Homo sapiens: one gene and its partners. Each later gene encodes a partner of the first gene's protein in a complex. Each region holds a gene or a part of one and is shown on either strand. Other genes may lie near its edges. A codon is read from its position in the direction of its gene.

Region 1 (9,209 bases):
GTGTCCTCATGGACCCTGCTTGATGTGAAAACCTGAATCCACAGGAGCTCTGCCCAGCACAGTTCCCCGTATTTTCTCAGCCAACTATGCATGAGAGCAGAGAAGTTTGGTCATCAGATCACATGTGCATTTAACAAACACTTTAACGTCCACACCTATGTGCCAGGCACTCTACTAAGCAGACAAAAGAGGGCATAAGTATGGTCCCTGCCCTGGCAGAATTCACATTCTAGGGTGGAGACAGGCCACAAACAGGTAAATGAGTTGAAGAATGGCTTGTGGCCAGTCGCAGTGGCTCACACCTGCAATCCCAGCACTTTCAAAGGATGAGGTGGGCGGATCACGAGGTCAAGAGTTCAAGACCAGCCTGGCCAACATGGTGAAACCCCATCTCTACTAAAAATACAAAAATTAGCTGGGGCCAGGCACGGTGGCTCACACCTGTAATCCCAGCATTTTGGGAGGCCGAGGCGGGTGGATCACGAGGTCAGGAGACCAAGACCATCCTGGCTAACATGGTGAAACCCTGTCTCTACTGAAAAATACAAAAAAATTAGCCAGGCGTGGTGGCGGGCGCCTGTAATCCCAGCTACTGAGGAGGCTGAAGTAGGAGAATGGCGCGAACCCAGGAGATGGAGCTTGCAGTGAGCCGAGATTGTGCCACTGCACTCCAACTTGGGCCACAGGGCAAGACTCTGTCTCAAGAAAAAAAAAAAAATTAGCCAGGCGTGGTGGCAGGCGCCTGTAATCCCGGCTACTCAAGAGGCTGAGGCAGGATCGGACGCGGTGGCTCAGGCCTGTAATCCCAGCACTTTGGGAGGCCGAGGCGGGTGGATCATGAGGTCAGGAGATCGAGACCATCCTGGCTAACACGGTGAAACCCCGTCTCTACTAAAAAAATACAAAAAATTAGCCGGGCGTGGTGGCGGGTGCCAGTAGTCCCAGCTACTCGGGAGGCTGAGGCAGGAGAATGGTGTGAACCCAGGAGGTGGAGCTTGCAGTGAGCCGAGATTGCACCACTGCACTCCAGCCTGGGCGACAGAGTGAGACTCCGTCTCAAAAAAAAAAAAAAAAAAAAAAGAGGCTGAGGCAGGAGAACTGCTTGAACCCAGAAGGTGGAGGCTGCAGCAAGCTGAGATTGCACCACTGCACTCCAGCCTGGGTGACAGAGTGAGACTCCATCTCAAAAAAAAAACATATAAATAAATAAAATTTTTTTTGGCTGGGCGCGGTGGCTCATGCCTGTAATCCCAGCACTTTGGGACACCGACACGGGCGGATCACCAGGTCAGGAGATCGAGACCATCCTGGCTAACACGGTAAAACCCCGTCTCTACTAAAAATACAAAACATTAGCCGGGTGTGGTGGCAGGTGCCTGTAGTCCCAGCTACTCGGGAAGCTGAGGCAGGAAAATGGCGTGAACCCAGAAGGCAGAGCTTGCAGTGAGCTGAGATCATGCCACTGCACTCCAGCCTGGGCGACAGAGTAAGACTCCATCTCAAAAAAAAAAAAAATTTAAATGGTTTATGATAAACATTCTAAAGTGTGTAAGGTGCTGAGATGGAGAGGACTATTTTAGATAGGGTGGTCAGCTGACATTTACACTAAGACCTTAAGAATGAAAAGGACTCAGTCAGCCAGGCGTGGTGGCTCACGTCTGTAATCCCAGCACTTTGGAAAGAGGCAGAGCTGGCTGGATCACCTGAGGTCAGGAGTTTGAGACCAGCCTGGCCAATGTGGCGAAACCCATCTCTACTAAAAATACAAAAATTAACTGGACGTGGTGGTGCATGCCTGTAATCCCAGCTACTCGGGAGGCCAAGGCAGGAGAATTGCTTGAACCTGGGAGTCGGAGGTTGCAGTGAGCCAAGATTCTGCCATTGTACTCCAGCCCGGGCAACAGAGCAAGACTCCATCTCAAAAAAAGAAAAGAAAACAAACTCAGTCATTGAAAGAATATTCCCAGCCAGGTGTGGTGGTGCACAGCTATAGTCCCAGCTACCTGAGAAGCTGAGGCAGGAGGACTGCTTGAGCACAGCAGTTTGAGACCAGCCTGGGCAACACAGTAAGATCCTCCTCTCTGATTTTTTTTTTCTCCTTTTCCTTGCCATATGAAGTCCCTCTTTATTTAAAAACAAAAAAGAGGCCGGGCGCGGTGGCTCACGCCTGTAATCCCAGCACTTTGGGAGGCCAAGGCAGGCGGATCACGAGGTCAGGAGATCGAGACCATCCTGGCTAACACGGTGAAACCCTGTCTCTACTAAAATACAAAAAAATTAGTTGGGCGTGGAGGCGGGCGCCTGTAGTCCCAGCTACTGCAGAGGCTGAGGCAGAATGATGTGAACCCAGGAGGCGGAGCTTGCAGTGAGCTCAGATCGCGCCACTGCACTTCCGTCTCAGAGTGAGACTCCGTCTCAAAATATATAAATAAATAAATAAAAACAAAAAAGAAGATTCCCAAGTGGGGGCAGAAAGCATGAAGATCTTCCACCAAGAAAAAGCTTGGAGGGGCCATAGGTTGACTGGTTCAAAAGAACAAGATACAAAACAGCCCAAAATGAGGCTAAAATGGAGAGCAGAGCCAGGTTCAGAGAAGGAAATTTGGGTTTTATTCTGGGCATAATGGAAAGCCACTGAGGGGTTGATTTTAGGCAGAAAACAGTGCTGTGGCCAGATTTTAATTTTTAAGAGTCACACTTGCTGCTGGTTGGAGCACGAATTGGACGGGACAAAAACAGGGATAAGGGAACCCAAATAGGAAGGTTTTACACAAATCCAGGCCAGAGACAATGGTGGCCTAGACCAAATAAAATGGACAACAGATGAATTCAAGTGATATTCCGGTGGTATAACTGATGGAATTCATGGATGAACTGAGTGTTAAGCATGGGGCTTCACTATAGCCACATTTAGCTTTTGCTTTTGGTTGAACAGCGGTGTCATTTTCCGAGATGGGAAAAGCTGGGGTTTAAGCAGAAAAATGAAGAGTTCCACTTTAAATATGTTAAATGAGATGTTTGCGTGACACCCACTAGATGTCAAGAGAGCAGCTGGATATGTAAAGTAGATTTGGAGGAAAGATCTAGGATGGAGCTGCAGATCTGGTAGTTGTCCTAATACAGGCAATATTTAAAATCATAGAAATAAATGACACTTCAGGGTAAATGCATCAGAAGATGACCTAGGCCCCATCCTGAGGAACTCAACACTTAGAGACTGGATAGAAAAGAAAAATCAGGCAATGAAATAGGGAAAAAAAATCCTACCACCATGTTTCAAAAAGAAAGGAGTGGCCAGTCCAACAAATGCTGACTTATGTCCCTTGGATTTGGTAGAATGGAGATCACTGCTGATCAAGACAAGAAACATTTAAGTGTCGTGGACGCCAGACTGAGCTGGGCTGAGGAGTAAAAATGAAGCGCAAATATGGAGCAGACAGCTTAACACAGGTCTAGACAGGGCTGTCAAACATGGAAGAAACACTAATCGCTAACAGGATAGAGCATGGCAATAGCTTGAAATTGGTTTGAAAATCCAAGATAAAAAATTCCTCTGACATCGTGATCCAGACCTCTCAAACACACAAGCATGCTCGCAATAACTGCAATAAAAGCAATAATGCTTTCTAGTCTATTCCACTACGTTAGAGAAACGGCTGGTCACCACCCACTCAATCATTCACGGCTCGCTGACGGGTAGAAACCTGCAATGACAGGTCCACGCTAATCCAACAAGGGATGATTTGGGGAGGCAGAGATGGAGTTTGAAAAGAAGCAGGGAGCCCGAGGACCTGCGCGGCCAGAGCGCCAGATAGCCATAGGCGTGGAGACGGTGGGGCGCCCACAGCCCCGGGCCCGGAGCCCCCGCCCCGCAGCCCCACCCGCCGGCCCACCCCGCGTCACTCCCCCGCCGCCCTTACCTCCTCCAGATACTCGCCCAGCTGGGCCGCCACGTCCACCTCCCAGTTCTTGGTGAGGTCGCGGATGGGCTGCAAGAGGTGGGCGAAGCGCGCCTCCACGTCCTCCATGTCCGGGAGGGAACGGGCGGCAAAGGGACCGCAGGGCTGCCTTCCGAGGGGTACGGCGTCCTCAGCCCGCCACTAGTTCTGGCGCCATTTTGCTGTTCCCGCCCAGGAAAATGCGTAGGCGCGGCGTCGCGCGCATGTCTATGACGTAACGTGGGCAAAAGCCAGAGAGGCGAACCCCGGCGCCGCGCAGCGGGAGCTCACCGGAAGAGTCGCGGGGCGGGGTCGAAGCCTCCGGGAGGGGGGGGTGGGCGGAGCTTTGGGCTGCCACCAGTTTGGACGGGAGGGCTTTTGGGGCCGCCGTGGGTCGGGCGGGGCGGGGTGGGGCGGGGCCTGGAGCTGCCGCGGGCGAGCGGGCCGAGGAGGCGGGGCTTGGGGGCTGCCACGGGTTGGGGGGGCGGGGCGGTGAGGAGGCGGGGCCTGGGGCAGCCGCGGGCGGGCGGACGGGCCGAGGAGGCGGGGCTTGGGGCTGCCACGGGTTGGGCGGGCGGGGCGGTGAGGAGGCGGGGCCTGGGACTGCCGCGGGCGGGCGGGCGGGCCGAGGAGGCGGGGCTTGGGGCTGCCACGGATTGGGCGGGCGGGGCGGTGAGGAGGCGGGGCCTGGGGCTGCCGCGGGCGGGCGGACGCGGAGGGCGGGCCCTGCTCTAGCGGGCCGCGTAGCGGACATGGCGGGCTCCCGGCTCCCGCGGCAGCTCTTCCTCCAGGGCGTGGCGGCCGTCTTCATGTTTGCTTTCGCTTCCCTCTACACGCAAATCCCAGGTGAAGGCACCCAGGGTGGGACACCCCCAGCCTCGGCGCGGGACCCTATGTCCTCTTTTCTCTGTGCCCGGCACTCACGCAGTCCGGGGTTGGGAGTGAGGGCCAGGCCTTGGCGTGGGGTAGGGGGCGGCGGTTCGTGTCCTGCAGGCCGCTGTGGGGGTAGGAAGGTGTGCGGTGATCCATTTCCCGTAAGGCTCTGGACTCTGACCTGGGGTGGGGGACAGAACTCTGAGAGAGGTGGGAGAGAGGCTTCCTCCCAGACCTGGTGGGACAGGTAGGAGATCGGGCTGAGACCTGGAAGAGGGCAGTGGGCTCTGCTGGGTGGGAGGCCCTGACTCAGGTAGTTGAGCAGGCCTCTAGCCCTGGGACGGGGTTTTGACAGGTCCCGACCTGGGGGACGGGCTCTGGAGGGACTGCAGACTCTGACCTAGGGATGGAGGTATCCGCATGCTCTGACCTAGGCTGGGGGATCTGCAGGCCCTGACTCAGAGGTAGTCTAGTCTGCAAGGGCTGTCCAGGGCCTGGCCATGACATGCCCTCCCACAGGCCTGTATGGCCCCGAGGGCATCCTACCTGCAAGGAGGACGCTGCGGCCTCAGGGCAAGGGGCGCTGGCAGCAGCTGTGGGAGACCCCGACGCTGCTGTGGGAAGCGCCGAGACTGGGGCTGGACACGGCCCAGGGCCTGGAGCTGCTGAGCCTGCTGGGTGCACTAGTGGCCCTGGGAGCCCTGCTGCTGAGCCCACTGCGCCACCCTGTCATCTACTTGCTGCTTTGGGCCGCCTACCTGTCAGCCTGCCAGGCAAGTGGGACCTGTGACCAGCTCACTCTATCTCCAACCCCCACCACCCACCCCTGCCTCTACCTTACCTGAGTCCACAGACACACCCGCTCCCTGACAGCCCCTCTCTCCGCAGGTGGGCCAGGTGTTCCTTTATTTCCAGTGGTGAGTGACGGCTGGGCCTGGGGCTGTGGGAGGCTGGGTAGGGGGTGGGGGAGGGCTCTGCCCTTCCTGGGAGGACTTTCCGAGGGAAGCAGCTGTGTGGGGAGGGGCTCTTGGTGCTATTTGCTCTCCCCATAGGGACTCCCTGCTGCTAGAGACTGGCTTCCTGGCCGTGCTGGTGGCCCCGCTGAGGCCAGCCTCCCACCGCAAGGAGGCCCCCCAGGGCAGGCAGGCAGGGGCCCTGCCCCACGAAGACCTCCCCTTCTGGCTGGTGCGATGGCTGCTGTTCCGCCTCATGTTCGCCTCAGGCGTGGTCAAGCTGACCAGCCGCTGCCCTGCGTGGTGGGGGCTCACTGGTGAGGGGCCCGGTCTGGACCTGGGGTAGTCTGGGGGCTCGGCCAGCCCTGACTCCTGCCCTCGCCTGCAGCCCTCACCTACCACTACGAGACCCAGTGCCTGCCCACGCCCGCCGCCTGGTTCGCACACCACCTGCCGGTCTGGCTGCACAAGCTCAGCGTGGTGGCCACCTTCCTAATTGAGATCGCTGTGCCGCCCCTGTTCTTCGCCCCCATTCGACGCCTGCGCTTGGCTGCTTTCTACTCGCAGGTGGGTGAGGGCCGCAGCTGTCAGAGAGAGGCAGACAGGGCTCGGCCTTCAGCGCTGCTCAGCGTGCCCTGTTGGGGACAGCGTGGCTCCCGGGGACAGCTGGCAACCGCTGTTGGGAAGGCCTTGTAGCAGAGGGATGCACCCTGCAGGGTGGAGGTGGGTGCCTGCCACGGGGCCAGGCGTCAGTCTCCGGGAGCACTGAGAGCGGGCCGCCCCCAGGTGCTGCTGCAGGTCCTGATTATCATCACCGGCAACTACAACTTCTTCAACCTGATGACGCTGGTGCTTACCACTGCGCTGCTGGACGACCAGCACCTGGCTGCTGAGCCTGGCCACGGCAGCCGCAAGAAGACGGCCACCTGTGCGTGTCACTTGTCCAGCCCCCTGCCCTCCCAGGGGTTCTCCCCTCCAACACCCCCACAGGACTCCCACTCTAGCTGCACCCCAGCCCCCTGGCTGGGGACCCTCTGCTGACCCATGACTGTCCTGCCCCACAGCCTGGCCCAAGGCCCTGCTGGCCACCCTGTCGCTGCTGCTGGAACTAGCCGTCTACGGGCTTCTGGCCTATGGCACTGTGCACTACTTTGGCCTGGAGGTTGACTGGCAGCAGCGCACCATCCACTCCAGAACCAGTGAGTGCCGACCTGGGGGGGCCAGAGGGCAGGGGCGGACCAGTCCTCACACCCCCCTCCTCCACCAGCTTTCACCTTCCACCAGTTTTCTCAGTGGCTGAAGACACTGACGCTGCCCACTGTGTGGCTGGGTGTGGCCTCCCTGGTCTGGGAGCTGCTGAGTGCCCTGTGGAGGTACATGGCCCAGGAAGCAGGGAGGGGGCACAGGTGTGCAGGGCCGGCCTGACGACCTTGGGTCCTTGCCCACAGGTGGACCCAGGTGCGGGGCTGGCTACGGAAGCTCAGTGCTGTAGTCCAACTGTCCCTTGTGGGCACTGCGACCGTGGCCTTGTTCCTGATTAGCCTGGTGGGTAGCGCTGCAGGGCTGGGGGATGGGCTGGGGGCAGGGCAGCCCTGAGAACCTCCCACCTGTCTCCAGGTGCCGTACTCCTACGTGGAGCCCGGGACCCACGGGCGCCTCTGGACCGGGGCCCACCGCCTGTTTGGTGCCGTGGAGCACCTACAGCTGGCCAACTCCTACGGCCTCTTCCGCCGCATGACTGGGCTTGGTGGACGGCCTGAGGTGGTGCTGGAGGGCAGTTACGACGGCCACCACTGGACGGTGAGCCCTCCCAGGGCGGGCAGGGTGGTGGGGCCCAGGTCAGCGGGCCCAGCTGACCTCGGCCTGCCTGGCAGGAGATCGAGTTCATGTACAAGCCTGGGAACCTGAGCCGGCCGCCCCCGGTTGTGGTGCCCCACCAGCCACGCCTGGACTGGCAGATGTGGTTTGCAGCCCTGGGCCCACACACGCACAGCCCGTGGTTCACAAGCCTGGTCTTGCGCCTGCTGCAGGGCAAGGAGCCAGGTGCGGAGCGGGCTTGGGGGGTGTGGAGTGGGCTGGGGTGGAGCGGGGTGGGGAGGGGAGGGGCAGGGCGGGTACTGTGGGGGCCACGCTGATGCCTCTCGCTGCAGTGATCCGCCTTGTCCAGAGCCAAGTGGCCAGGTATCCCTTCCACAAGCAGCCGCCCACCTACGTCCGAGCCCAGCGCTACAAGTACTGGTTCTCCCAGCCTGGGGAGCAGGGGTAAGGCTGGGCACCGGGTGGGGTGTGGAGCCCGGGGTGCAGGGGTAAGGCCGGGCACCGGGGGGTGTGGAGCCCGGGGTGCAGGGGTAAGGCCGGGCACCGGGGGGGGGTGTGGAGCCCGGGGTGCAGGGGTAAGGCCGGGCACTGGGGGGGGTGTGGAGCCCGGGGTGCAGGGGTAAGGCCGGGCACCGGGGTGGGGTGTGGAGCCTGGGGTGCAGGGGTAAGGCCGGGCACTGGGGGGGGTGTGGAGCCCGGGGTGCAGGGGTAAGGCCGGGCACCGGGTGGGGTGTGGAGCCCGGGGTGCAGGGGTAAGGCCGGGCACCAGGGGGGGATGTGGAGCGTGAGGAGCTGAGGAGCAGGGGTAAGGCTGGGCACTGGCGATGGGGTATGGAGCCCGGGGTGCCTCCAGCTTCTGAACATCGGGTCCTGCTGCAGCCAGTGGTGGCGGCGCCAGTGGGTGGAGGAGTTCTTCCCATCCGTGTCCCTGGGGGACCCCACGCTGGAGACGCTGCTCAGGCAGTTTGGACTACAGGTAAGGGGGTGTCAGCCAGGCTGGGGGAGGTGGCAGGGGTGACCCCAGCCTCCCGGGGTAAACCCAGTAAGCACTTCCCCAACCTCCCTCCCTCCCTCCCTCCCACAGGAGAAAAGCCCACCTCGCACCCGCAGCGCCAACAGCACCCTGGCCCAGGCCCTCCACTGGACTCGCTCTCAGCTGTCTCCCCTGGAGGCCCCCGCCCTGCTCTGGGGGCTCCTCATGGCCGTGGGGGCTGTCAGATTTGTGCAAGCCCTGCTAGCACCCTGTTCTCTCCGGTCCTCCCCGCTGGCACCAGTCAGCGGGGAGAAGCGCAGGCCAGCCTCCCAGAAAGACTCCGGAGCTGCCTCCGAACAGGCCACCGCAGCCCCCAACCCCTGCTCCAGTAGTTCGAGGACCACCCGGCGAAAGAAGTAGCTGTGTTCTCCCAGCTGCACGTCCTGAGAGGGCCAGGTCGCCGGGAGTGCTCTGGCCTCCGGCAGGACAGGACCCAGCCACTGTGCCTTAGCTGACCCTGCAGGGCCAGGCACAGGTTGGGGGGCTGCCCCTGGGGTTTGCAGGGTGCTGCATTGAGGGCTCCAGGCCCCACCCCCACGCCAGCCATGCCCCTCCCCAGGACTCCCACTATTGCCTCTGTGATTGGCCCAGGAG
Region 2 (2,611 bases), on another chromosome or scaffold:
GGACCTCTTTCTCCAGGTCCTCGTTTATCCCTTCTGAGACGTCTCCTTCACTTTCTGGAAGCTGTGGTTAGCCCAGATCCCATCTTTTAGTTCTCCAGACCAGAAAGACCCCAGGCTTTCCACTGCAGCCTTAGCTGTCCTACAGCTGCATCATGACTATAGCTGGTACTTAGGTTAAAAACATTAACCTTAGCTTGTGCCTGTCTCTTCCTCCGTATTTTATCTCCCATCCAAAATCTTTCTAGTTTTTCTTCAGTTTCCTGAACTCTCAGGTAGTTGTTTCTAGTATTTTGCTCAGAATCTATATTTATCATCTGTGGGAATGTTGGCCTTTAGATTATGCCACCCTATTGGAAGAGAAAATTTCATGTCTTTGCTTTGCATTTGCTGTGAGCTTACTTGAAATGCCAAAACCGCCACCACCACAATGAATCCTCTCTTCACATGGTTGAGGTTCTTCTTTAAGGTAACATTCACGTTGTACATACTGCTCATACAGGTATTTTTCTTAAATTTATTCTGTACAATAAATACAAATGTTCAAGCTGTCAGTGACGTAGTATATCTTAGGTTCTGGAGACTGACAAGATTTGTCCATGGGCCCTGACACTCCTAACTGTATTATCACCCTGAGCAAGTTTCCTAACTTTTCTGCTCAACTCACTCAATTCCTCGATTACACCATGCTGACAACAACAGTATTTACCTCACTAGGTTACTCTGAGGATTAAATATGACAATACATACAAATGAGAACAGCAGCTAATGTAAAGAAAGAGCTTGTTAAATATTAGTTAACTCATATTACTGCAGATGTGTGAAACAAATGTCCCCAATCCCCTTAATGTCTTCCCTCTAATGAAAAAAAGTTACAACAATTTAATACATGTTTGAGGGTTTTCAAAGATCAAGATTATACAAGACAAAAATCAGGAACGCACACAAGCAAAACATTTTTAGCAGAGAAAAGGAAATGAGTACGTAAGCCAAAATAGTCAAACTCCCAAATTATTTTTAAAACGTTGGCTAAAACAGCAATGAAGTACCACTTAATAACTAACTGTTAAATCAGAAATATTAAAATTAACAGCAAGTACTGACTAATTTGTATACTATGGTATACTTTAATATTGACAGTGTGAATTGGTAACTGTTTTGGCACAGTCTGTAATACATTTGAAAGGAAACAAAAAAACTATATTTGACATTGGACTTTCTGTAACTCAACATTTACAGCATTATTTCCTCTCCCCTCCACAGTGGACAGAACTAATTCCAGATTCAATCCTTTCCAATGTGTCCCATAATATCAATTACTGCATGTTTTCTGACATCTCATATGTATGGAGAATGAAGGGTGGGAAATGTCAAGCCCAGGGCCAGGAAGTACGGCCATATATCAGGGGAAGTATGATAATAACACTAAGGAAATAAGACTAAAAAATCAAGAAGAGATGTGGGGCCAAAATAACACATGGAAGATCAGATTACATCATGTCAGACCTTTCATGATTCAGTTTGGGGTCACTGTTCTAGTGATGACGTACCAAAAACTGTAGACAGTATTCTCATGGTGTTCGCTAGTGTCATCTTTCAAGTTCTAAAGGAATTTCATCCCTTTGAACTGGAAAGCGGAAGACAAATAATCATCCAACTTTTGAGTTATTTTGGTGGAACAGATGGATTGAGTTATTTATATTTATACATATATATATCAGACTCAGGGAAAAATAAATTTGGTTTAGTCTACTGGCACCTACATTCTTGTTTACCAATAGGTTGTTAATGACTGGATTATGAAAAGGCTGACAAAAATCTTGGAAAATATTAACAAACTTCAGATAAATTTGCAGCAGATAGTACCACGCAACACACCTCCTAAGCTTTGATTTAAAAATACTTACACAGCTTAAAAAAACAAAAACATTAAAGTCGTAGAGACCAATTATTAAGCGTATAGGAACATGATATTCATGTATCATTAAAACGTAGAGACCAATTATTAAGCGTATAGGAACATGATATTCATGTATCATTAAAATAAGGATTCTTTCAAGATCTGTTTCCTATCTCAGTCTAAATCAGGGGTCTGGAGTTGTGGCCTTAAAAAACTAGCCTCAAACGGCTCCATGCATGCATAATAGCTTTATATGTGTTCCCTTTGTTGGTCCAGTTACCTGATTTATAATTCTTCCTTACCTGAATGACTTTAGAAAACACATTAATATTGCCTTAGGAATTAAATCAATTAAACACTGATGATCAGCTACATTTATCATGTAATTTAATCTGCTTTTTTGTATATTAGCTTTTACATATAGAATCGGGTATCTCAGGATCCCTAATATATAAAAGACCCGCATAAGAAAAAAACATTTGATGATATGCATAAAATCACAACCACAATAATTGGACCATAATTAGACTAGTTAAGAGATGAGGAATATATGCTCATTTGTAAGCGATAAGTGATTATATAAAGAGAAAACATGGGTTAAGTAACACAGTAACATTAATTTTTGTATATAAACAAATTAGTTATCTCAAGTCCTTAAAAGTTTACATTTAAAAAAACAGGTCAAGATGAAGAAATAACTTTGTAGTTTAAACT
Region 3 (7,237 bases), on another chromosome or scaffold:
GCATATATATAGTCACTCTTTTCCCACCTAAAAAGAATTTCTCTTTGCAACAACCACTTCCTCACTGTTAGCCCATGTGGCATGAGGCCCAGACTTAAGCCAATTAGAGCATTCCATTCCCTTTGCACAGACTGTTTCACAGGTGGCCCAGGACTTTTATTCAAATCAATGCTGGGGAAGAGAAACTCTCATTCCCCCTTGGATTTTAATTTTAGAAGATATGAGGCTGGAGTTGCTGTAGCTATCTTACCACAGCAAGGGGAGAGCCAAAAGGTGCTAGAGGCCATCATACGGAACCTGAAAATACTGCCAACACAATGGAGTTCAAAGCAAGGAAAGAAACCAAATCCTTGTGTCTTTGTCTGAACCCTTAATCCAGTTATAGTCACCTGACTTTTTAGTTCCAGGAGACAATATTTGTTTTTTCTCAAGACAATTTGGATTGGGTTTTCTGTCACTTGTAATCAACAGGCTCCTATCCTAGATATTACTGTAATTATTTCTTCTTCTTACATTCTAAAAATGAACATTTCCTTAATATCCTTGGTCTGGTGCTAGCTTCTCTCCACTTACAATCTTAAAAACCTAACCTATTTTTAGTGATCCAGTTATTCTTACAGCACTACCCATTTTATTTTCTCTCTTAAGCCATACTCTCTACCTCTACTGCTTGTTGAATATATCTTTCCAGAATTCCAACCTACGGAATAAAAACATACTTATCTTTCAAAATGATATTTCCAAAAAAGAGCTGTTCTGCCTTCTAGCTTCCTGGGTTTTCGGTGATAAGTTATGTGTGTTTCGGTAACATTAATATACCAAGGTGCTTATATTATCAAGAGGAATATTCACTTCTATCTGCACTGTGTCTATATCTAATTTATTAATCTTGAACAATATTCTCTAAATATTTATACAATACTTACATAAATTCATATTAGTTAATATCTAATTTATCTAAATATTTACAATTACAAATTTAATCTTTTAAAATATTTACTCAGAAATCTAATTTCAGCCTTTCTGAAATGTTATGACATTAGAAGGCAAACAAAACACATATTGTTAAAATGATGAAAAAACCTTGCACTTAAAGAACTGAAAATGAAGATTTTAATTCTAATTCCAATTTTTCTCTTTGAACTTATTTCTTCCTGTGGGGTATAATTTTTTTCTAATGTAAAAAGTGAGGTTTTCCTTCTAAGACTGCCTGAAATTGCAGATAGAGATTACTGACAGATCATTTTAGACTAGGAAGATAAGACCCAGTTATAGCAATACTTTCCAAAATGACTGTAACCCAGTCTTTTCCAGGTAGGCCAGCTTCTCTTTGTAATTAAACTCTGTTAATTTCATGAGACATGTCCAAAATATTGGCAACAATCAACCAAAAGTCTTTATTTCTTGTGACTCTAATATCTTCTCAAAATTTATACTTATTCTGAATGTCTTATTTTTGTGGTATATATAAATCTCCAGATTTAAGTCTACTCTGTAGCTGTTTGTTATGTTTTCTCATTATACAACCTGGTTTATGCCCCTTTTCAAAATAGTTTTCTGAGTGGGCAATGGTTAGGTTCAATTAAATTTAAGGCCATCAGTCAGTTGATTTATCAAAACTATATTTTCTGTGACTTATCGTTCTTCCTATACCTTATCACTAATTCAAGGATACACAAAGAATAGTATATGACTGACTTCAAGGGTTTATACTCTGAACCATCACAATCTACAAAAGCTATAGATTTTTACCCCAAAATGACTCCAGATTTTTTTCCATCCTACTTAGGCACTTCTCACTTACTGTTATATAGTAACAATCTTAACTAAAGCCTAGACTGATCTCAGTTTCTTTCCCCTTTAACATACCCCACATAACTACTGTTAATTATTCTTCCTATATTTACCAAGTCATTCCTTGGCTCAGAATTGTTCTAAAAGCTGTTTCCTCCATATCATATCTAACATCCTTGACTTGGTTTTCAAGATCCTTCAGGAGCTACCCTTCCTCTAACTTGATATCCCATTATTCATCCTTAGCATACTTTGATAAGTTCAATGTCATAAACACAGCAAAATCAAATCCTTATGGAGCATGTGCTAGATGAACAATCATAAACAGTATGATGAGACAGGTATTATATGCTAGTTTCATAAATAAATACTCTCAAGATTGACAAACTGAGGAAACTGTCAAGCATATACCTAAAAAATGATGGAACTTGGGATTCTGTTTTCTATATTACATCTTTCCACTACATTGTGCTCTGTTGCCCCAAATACACCACTCAATTTGGTCTATACTTTTTTTTTTTTTTTTTTTTTTGAGACGCAGTTTCGCTCTTGTTGCCCAGGCTGTAGTGCAACGGCACTATCTCGGCTCACCGCAACCTCCGCCTCCCGGGTTCAAGAGATTCTCCTGTCTCAGCCTCCCTAGTAGCTGGGATTACAGGCATGCGCCACCATGCCCTGCTAATTTTTTATTTTTAGTAGAGACGGGGTTTGTCCATGTTGGTCAGGCTGGTCTCGAACTCCCAACCTCAGGTGATCCGCATAGTTGATACCTCCCCAACTCAGGTTTTGTAGTGTTTTACAACCTTTGGAAATGCAAAAATTCCAGAAGCCCTCAAAGATAATCCTTATATCTTCTTGGTATGCTTACCAGCCAAAAAACTTTTTTTCATTAAGGTTTATTTTCTGTAGCTTGTTTTATGAAAACAACAATTCGTTTTTAACTTCAAACATAAAGATATATCACGATATTGAGTCTACGCTTATGCAATACACACCAGTCTCCCAACCTCACCAAATTCTTACAATTGGTTGGGAGGGGGGTGGCTCTCCACACCTTTTTGAGAATCACTGAACCTGACTTCATGCTCTTCCAGGGAAGAACCATAATGTATTTAGAGTGATCATGTAAATTCATTCAAAAGGGAGATTTAATGGTGATTTAACATGCCAGACCCTAAGTAAGCAAAAGTTAAAGAAAAAAAAAGGAGGCTAGTAGTTCTCAATGTCAAGTACTTAAGAGTTGTTGCATGAATACTGGAGATAGTCAAATGAGCCAGTGGCTCTTTAACAATATAGGGAATTAGGAGCAAGTATGAGATTCTGATTATAAAGTTGTAGGAAAACTAACTTCCCAGAAAAATGCACATAGAATTATGTATACAATGTCAGGCGAGTTATGAACTCTGAAGCCCAATCACCTACCACCAGATCCACAGACCTCAGGTTAAAAACCCACTAAAACTAAGTTCTCGGGGAACAGGAATCGCCAAACTTGCTTACTAATTCTAATTATGCCTTACCCAGGGCAATGTATACAAACACTACTTAGGGAATATTTGCTGATCGATAATTTCCTCATAAAAATAACCATAACACTGGCGAGTCGTTTTTTCCACTAAAGAGCCTTTTAGTCAAATTATTTTAAAAGTCCTAAACCTTTCACTAGTAACACCAATGATCTCGAAAATCATTATTGCGCTATTCACATGTCGACTAAGCTATCACGAATCCAGGTCTTCCAGTTGTCTCTCTACTCCCTTAAAATTTAGGGCTTCCTCCTTCGCATCCCAAAAGCTACACCCGGAGCCCCGCTGCCGCCAGGGAGACAGAAAATGATGCTCCACGAAGCACACAGCTTCAAAACAGGAAAGATGGGATCCAGTGATGGCTACAACTTCCAAACCCTTTTCTCACCAGGTCCAGAGGTGAAGGGATTTACCTCAAGTTCCAGGAAAGCGGTGGCGATTGCTCTCAAATACCTGGTACCTCCCCGTCACCATAGTGACTTCTAAGAGTTACGCTCCCTTCCTCTTCCCGCGATACTTCTACGCGGCACGTCATCCGAGTGGGCCCGAGACCCCGCCTCTCGGCGAGCCCGCCCTCTTCTGAAGAGGCGTTTCTGGACCACTGAGCCCCGCCTCCCACTGTGAGCGGAACCCTACCGTTTTTAAAAAAATCTTTTTCAAAACTTGCCAGGTTGTCTTTCCAAATATTTTTAATAATAGTGCTGCTGCTGTAGACCACAGAGAAAAGAATCCCTCGCTCTTCCTTTTCACTTAGTAGAAACTTCTACCGCGTAGGTCCCGCCAGGAGTTCGCGCATGCGCAGGAGCGACAATAAGATGGCGGTGATAATCGCCGCACTTTTTTTCAAATTAGTGGATCCCAGAAATCATTGCGCGCATTTGTAACGAATTTCCGTTCGAGTTTGTATTTTAGGCGCCATTTTCGAGTGAAGGACCCGGAGCCGAAACACCGGTAGGAGCGGGGAGGTGGGTACTACACAACCGTCTCCAGCCTTGGTCTGAGTGGACTGTCCTGCAGGTAAAGTACTTCTCTTCCTGGTCAGGTTGTCACGCTCTTACTTCCTGCCTTGTCCGCGAGCGCCTGGAAAATAGAGGCCTTGAGCCCGAGCGGCGAAGTCCGGGCTTGAAGCTGCCGCTGGGAGATTTCTCTTGCTGTCACCCCTCCCCCCTCGGCCGCTCCCCGGCGGCCCGGGCTCCCGCGCGCAGCTCCCGGGCGCCACTTTTCCAAGCTACTCAAATGTCTCGGGGAGGCCCTGAGCCTCGCAGATCTTTTCTTTAAAAAATCCTAGTCTCTATCTGGAAAAGGGCGTCTCCCCCTACCCCTCTTCCTTCTGCCAACGGACTAGTCACCGGGTCTCAGCCTTCGCTGGTGACCTTTCATGGTTTACTGTCCAACGGGACTCCGCCTGGGGAGCTGGAGAGACAAACTCTTGCCACTCCAAAATTAGCAAGCGCTGCCAGCGTCCGACTTGAAGTTGCTAGTGGTTAGTCCCAGCCTTCGCCCTTCGCGGTCCGACCGCTGAGAGGAGGGAGACTTCGTTATGCCCCGGGCCGTCAACGGCGCCAGGAGCTAAAGGGCGGGCAGACGAAAGCGGGCGGCGAGTCGCCAGTTAGTCTTCACCGCTCTGGAGAGAGTTGCTAGCCACGGGATCCTGACCCGGACACGAACTCGTTTCTCCACGTCGGTGCGCGCTTGCATCCCTGGCCCCGAAAGCGTGGGAATGTCCGGAAATGCTGGCGTATGGGAGTTCCTTAATTAGAAATGCGTTAGCGAATATTATACGCTTATACTATGGGCGGACGGGTGGAGAGCCTTAAAAACAACAACAACAAACTAAGCAGTTGCTCAATCGTTGATTGATCCTCAGGCACGTCTAGATTTTCCCACTTACATAGGTCTTGTTAAGAAACCAGTCCTGCCTTCTTGCCACTCGTGTCTTTCGATGGCTCCCTTCCCGAAGTCCCGCTGCCTCTAAGCGGAGTGTTAAGCGGGGCTCTCGGAAGCCGGTGGACCGAGATTTCCCCGGGTGGGGCGGGCGCGGTGTAGCGGCCCGCGGGCTGACTTGCTCCCGGCTGTCCCCCGGCCCCAGCGACCATGCCCCGTAAAGGCACCCAGCCCTCCACTGCCCGGCGCAGAGAGGAAGGGCCGCCGCCGCCGTCCCCTGACGGCGCCAGCAGCGACGCGGAGCCTGAGCCGCCGTCCGGCCGCACGGAGAGCCCAGCCACCGCCGCAGGTGAGTGACCCGCCGCGACTCGGCGGGAACGCGCGCTGTGGGACTGGCAGGCAAACGCGCCCAGCCCGAGGCTGGCTGGGGTTGTTGAGCGCGGAGTTGACATCTGAAGGTCCGGTGTCGGTCCGGTAGAGGCTCAGGAAAGCCATTTGGCAACTTTGAGATAGGATTCCCGTGCAATTTTGGTGTAACGGCGCTGGAAGGGATGGGGGCGAGCAAACGGGTTCAGTTGTGAATTTTTGTTTGTGACCTGTGGAATGGTACAGGTCACAAACAAAAATTCAATATCTTTATTGTATTCCCGCTAAAATCGAGACGGTCAATCAAGAGAGCAAGTGGACTTTTTTCCCAGAGACAATCAATATGACTATGTGAGCATGATGAAAAGTTTTTTGACCCTAACCTCACCTCCGTGGTGTTAGATTGCCGTTAAAGAGAAGACGATAATTTATTTGAAGCCACTGTAGCTTTTGTGAGTCCAGGAGTTGGGTGACATTATTAAACCCTCGTGGCAGTGTCGCTGAAGTTCATGAGTTTCCAAAATGAAGGTTCCAGGTGCTCAGCGGTACGGAGAATTGCATCTAGAGCCTTAGGATTTAACCTCCTGTTTAGGATAGGCAGCAGGAAATAGCTTGTTACGGTTTTCCCAGATTTGCTCTATGATGTAGTGTTTTGACTCTTAAGAGGTATAGGTGTATAGAATTTTGTGACCGGTGGCATTTCTTTCAAGAATTTCTTTTTTAGTAAAACCAAGCTGAAGGTTTAGTCACCCCCGTGAGTTTAAGATAATAACATATTTAAGTGGAAAATATAGACTCCTAAGTTTCATAAATAACATCCCTCCATCCCCTACTTTAAAGATGGGCAGTCATTAGTTCTCCGAACTAATTGCACTAATGTAGGCTTTTCCCCCGCCGTTTGCCTTCGTTTTCCTTTCCTTTCACTGACTTAGAGACTGCAAGTGAGGAACTTGATAATAGAAGTTTAGAAGAGATTTTGAACAGCATTCCTCCTCCCCCGCCTCCAGCAATGACCAATGAAGCTGGAGCTCCTCGGCTTATGATAACTCATATTGTAAACCAGAACTTCAAATCCTATGCTGGGGAGAAAATTCTGGGACCTTTCCATAAGGTATTTGTATGGAAATAACTATTTTATAACTTTTTAAATAACTATTGTAAGGTAATACGTTTTTACAAGATGTTTCAGTTTTGTAACTATCCTAAAATTCATTCACTCCCTATTTATCCTGATAGTCTTTCTGTCTCTCTCTCTCACACACACACACACACGTTTCATATGATTTTAACACTGAAATTATCTTTTGTTTATCTGGTTATCTTTGGTACCTCTAGTTACAAAGTTTTCCATTGAATGGAGTCGGTGTGTGTTTCTGTTTGAAAGAGTATTTTCCCTTGGATAATTTTTTTTTCTTAAAGCCTTCTATGGAACCCTTAGATAATTTAACTATAAAATGAGTTTTCTAAAACGTCTGCGTTAGAATTGGAGCATTCTTATTGAATGTTGAAGCTTTTAAGAGAGAACTTGATGTAAGAAAACTCAAGTCGTATGCCTGTGATTAGCAATGAGAACTTTTAAATACTTGCAGTTTTTAACTGCAAGTAAAAAAATCTAACAGTTTCAGTTAAAATCAGTAGTATTAGCATGACCTTATGAACTTTTCCGT

Evidence for each region. The genes of interacting proteins can lie anywhere in the genome.
Region 2: the proteins of NCAPH2 (region 1) and SMC2 are in contact, whole or in part, in a cryo-EM structure (PDB 9F5W), measured with the Homo sapiens proteins. Residues at the interface, in NP_689512.2 of Homo sapiens: Glu46, Phe53, Ile54, Glu55, Leu58, Leu59, Gly62, Ser63, Ala64, Cys65, Val66, Lys69, Tyr73; in NP_001036015.1 of Homo sapiens: Leu93, Thr125, Gln128, Asp129, Cys132, Gly135, Leu136, Asn137, Met173, Tyr174, Lys177, Lys178.
Region 3: the proteins of NCAPH2 (region 1) and SMC4 are in contact, whole or in part, in a cryo-EM structure (PDB 9F5W), measured with the Homo sapiens proteins. Residues at the interface, in NP_689512.2 of Homo sapiens: Arg494, Ile495, Trp498, Glu499, Thr501, Val502, Leu505, Leu506, Gln509, Glu510, His512, Phe547, Cys550, Arg551, Met553, Leu554, Leu557, Gln558, Ala560, Asn561, Tyr563, Val565, Glu566, Ile567, Gln569, Leu573, Glu574, Ala576, Val577, Asp578; in NP_001002800.1 of Homo sapiens: Ile100 (codon at 6,661), Leu101 (codon at 6,664), Gly102 (codon at 6,667), Pro103 (codon at 6,670), Ile112, Gly113, Pro114, Ser117, Gln1151, Met1152, Leu1155, Phe1227, Lys1228, Ser1231, Ile1232, Phe1235, Tyr1236, Glu1239, Gln1240, Asn1253, Asn1254, Phe1256, Glu1257, Arg1261, Gly1264, Ile1265, Tyr1266, Lys1267, Thr1268, Tyr1269.

Annotation. Positions count from the first base shown.
Region 1 is NC_000022.11:50,503,157-50,512,365, reverse strand, and holds the start of NCAPH2 (condensin-2 complex subunit H2), read right to left. Parts: upstream 4,143-9,209; 5' UTR 4,029-4,142; coding exon 3,921-4,028; intron 1-3,920. Other genes in the region: LMF2 (lipase maturation factor 2), read left to right, coding at 4,691-4,784, 5,331-5,584, 5,700-5,728, 5,864-6,081, 6,153-6,331, 6,551-6,692, 6,829-6,963, 7,032-7,137 and 6 more. UniProt on the Homo sapiens protein: Regulatory subunit of the condensin-2 complex, a complex that seems to provide chromosomes with an additional level of organization and rigidity and in establishing mitotic chromosome architecture.
Region 2 is NC_000009.12:104,139,309-104,141,919, reverse strand, and holds the end of SMC2 (structural maintenance of chromosomes protein 2), read right to left. Parts: coding exon 2,605-2,611; 3' UTR 501-2,604; downstream 1-500. UniProt on the Homo sapiens protein: Central component of the condensin complex, a complex required for conversion of interphase chromatin into mitotic-like condense chromosomes.
Region 3 is NC_000003.12:160,395,413-160,402,649, forward strand, and holds the start of SMC4 (structural maintenance of chromosomes protein 4), read left to right. Parts: upstream 1-4,237; 5' UTR 4,238-4,337; intron 4,338-5,146; exon of another isoform or gene 5,147-5,409; 5' UTR 5,410-5,414; coding exon 5,415-5,553; intron 5,554-6,502; coding exon 6,503-6,681; intron 6,682-7,237. UniProt on the Homo sapiens protein: Central component of the condensin complex, a complex required for conversion of interphase chromatin into mitotic-like condense chromosomes.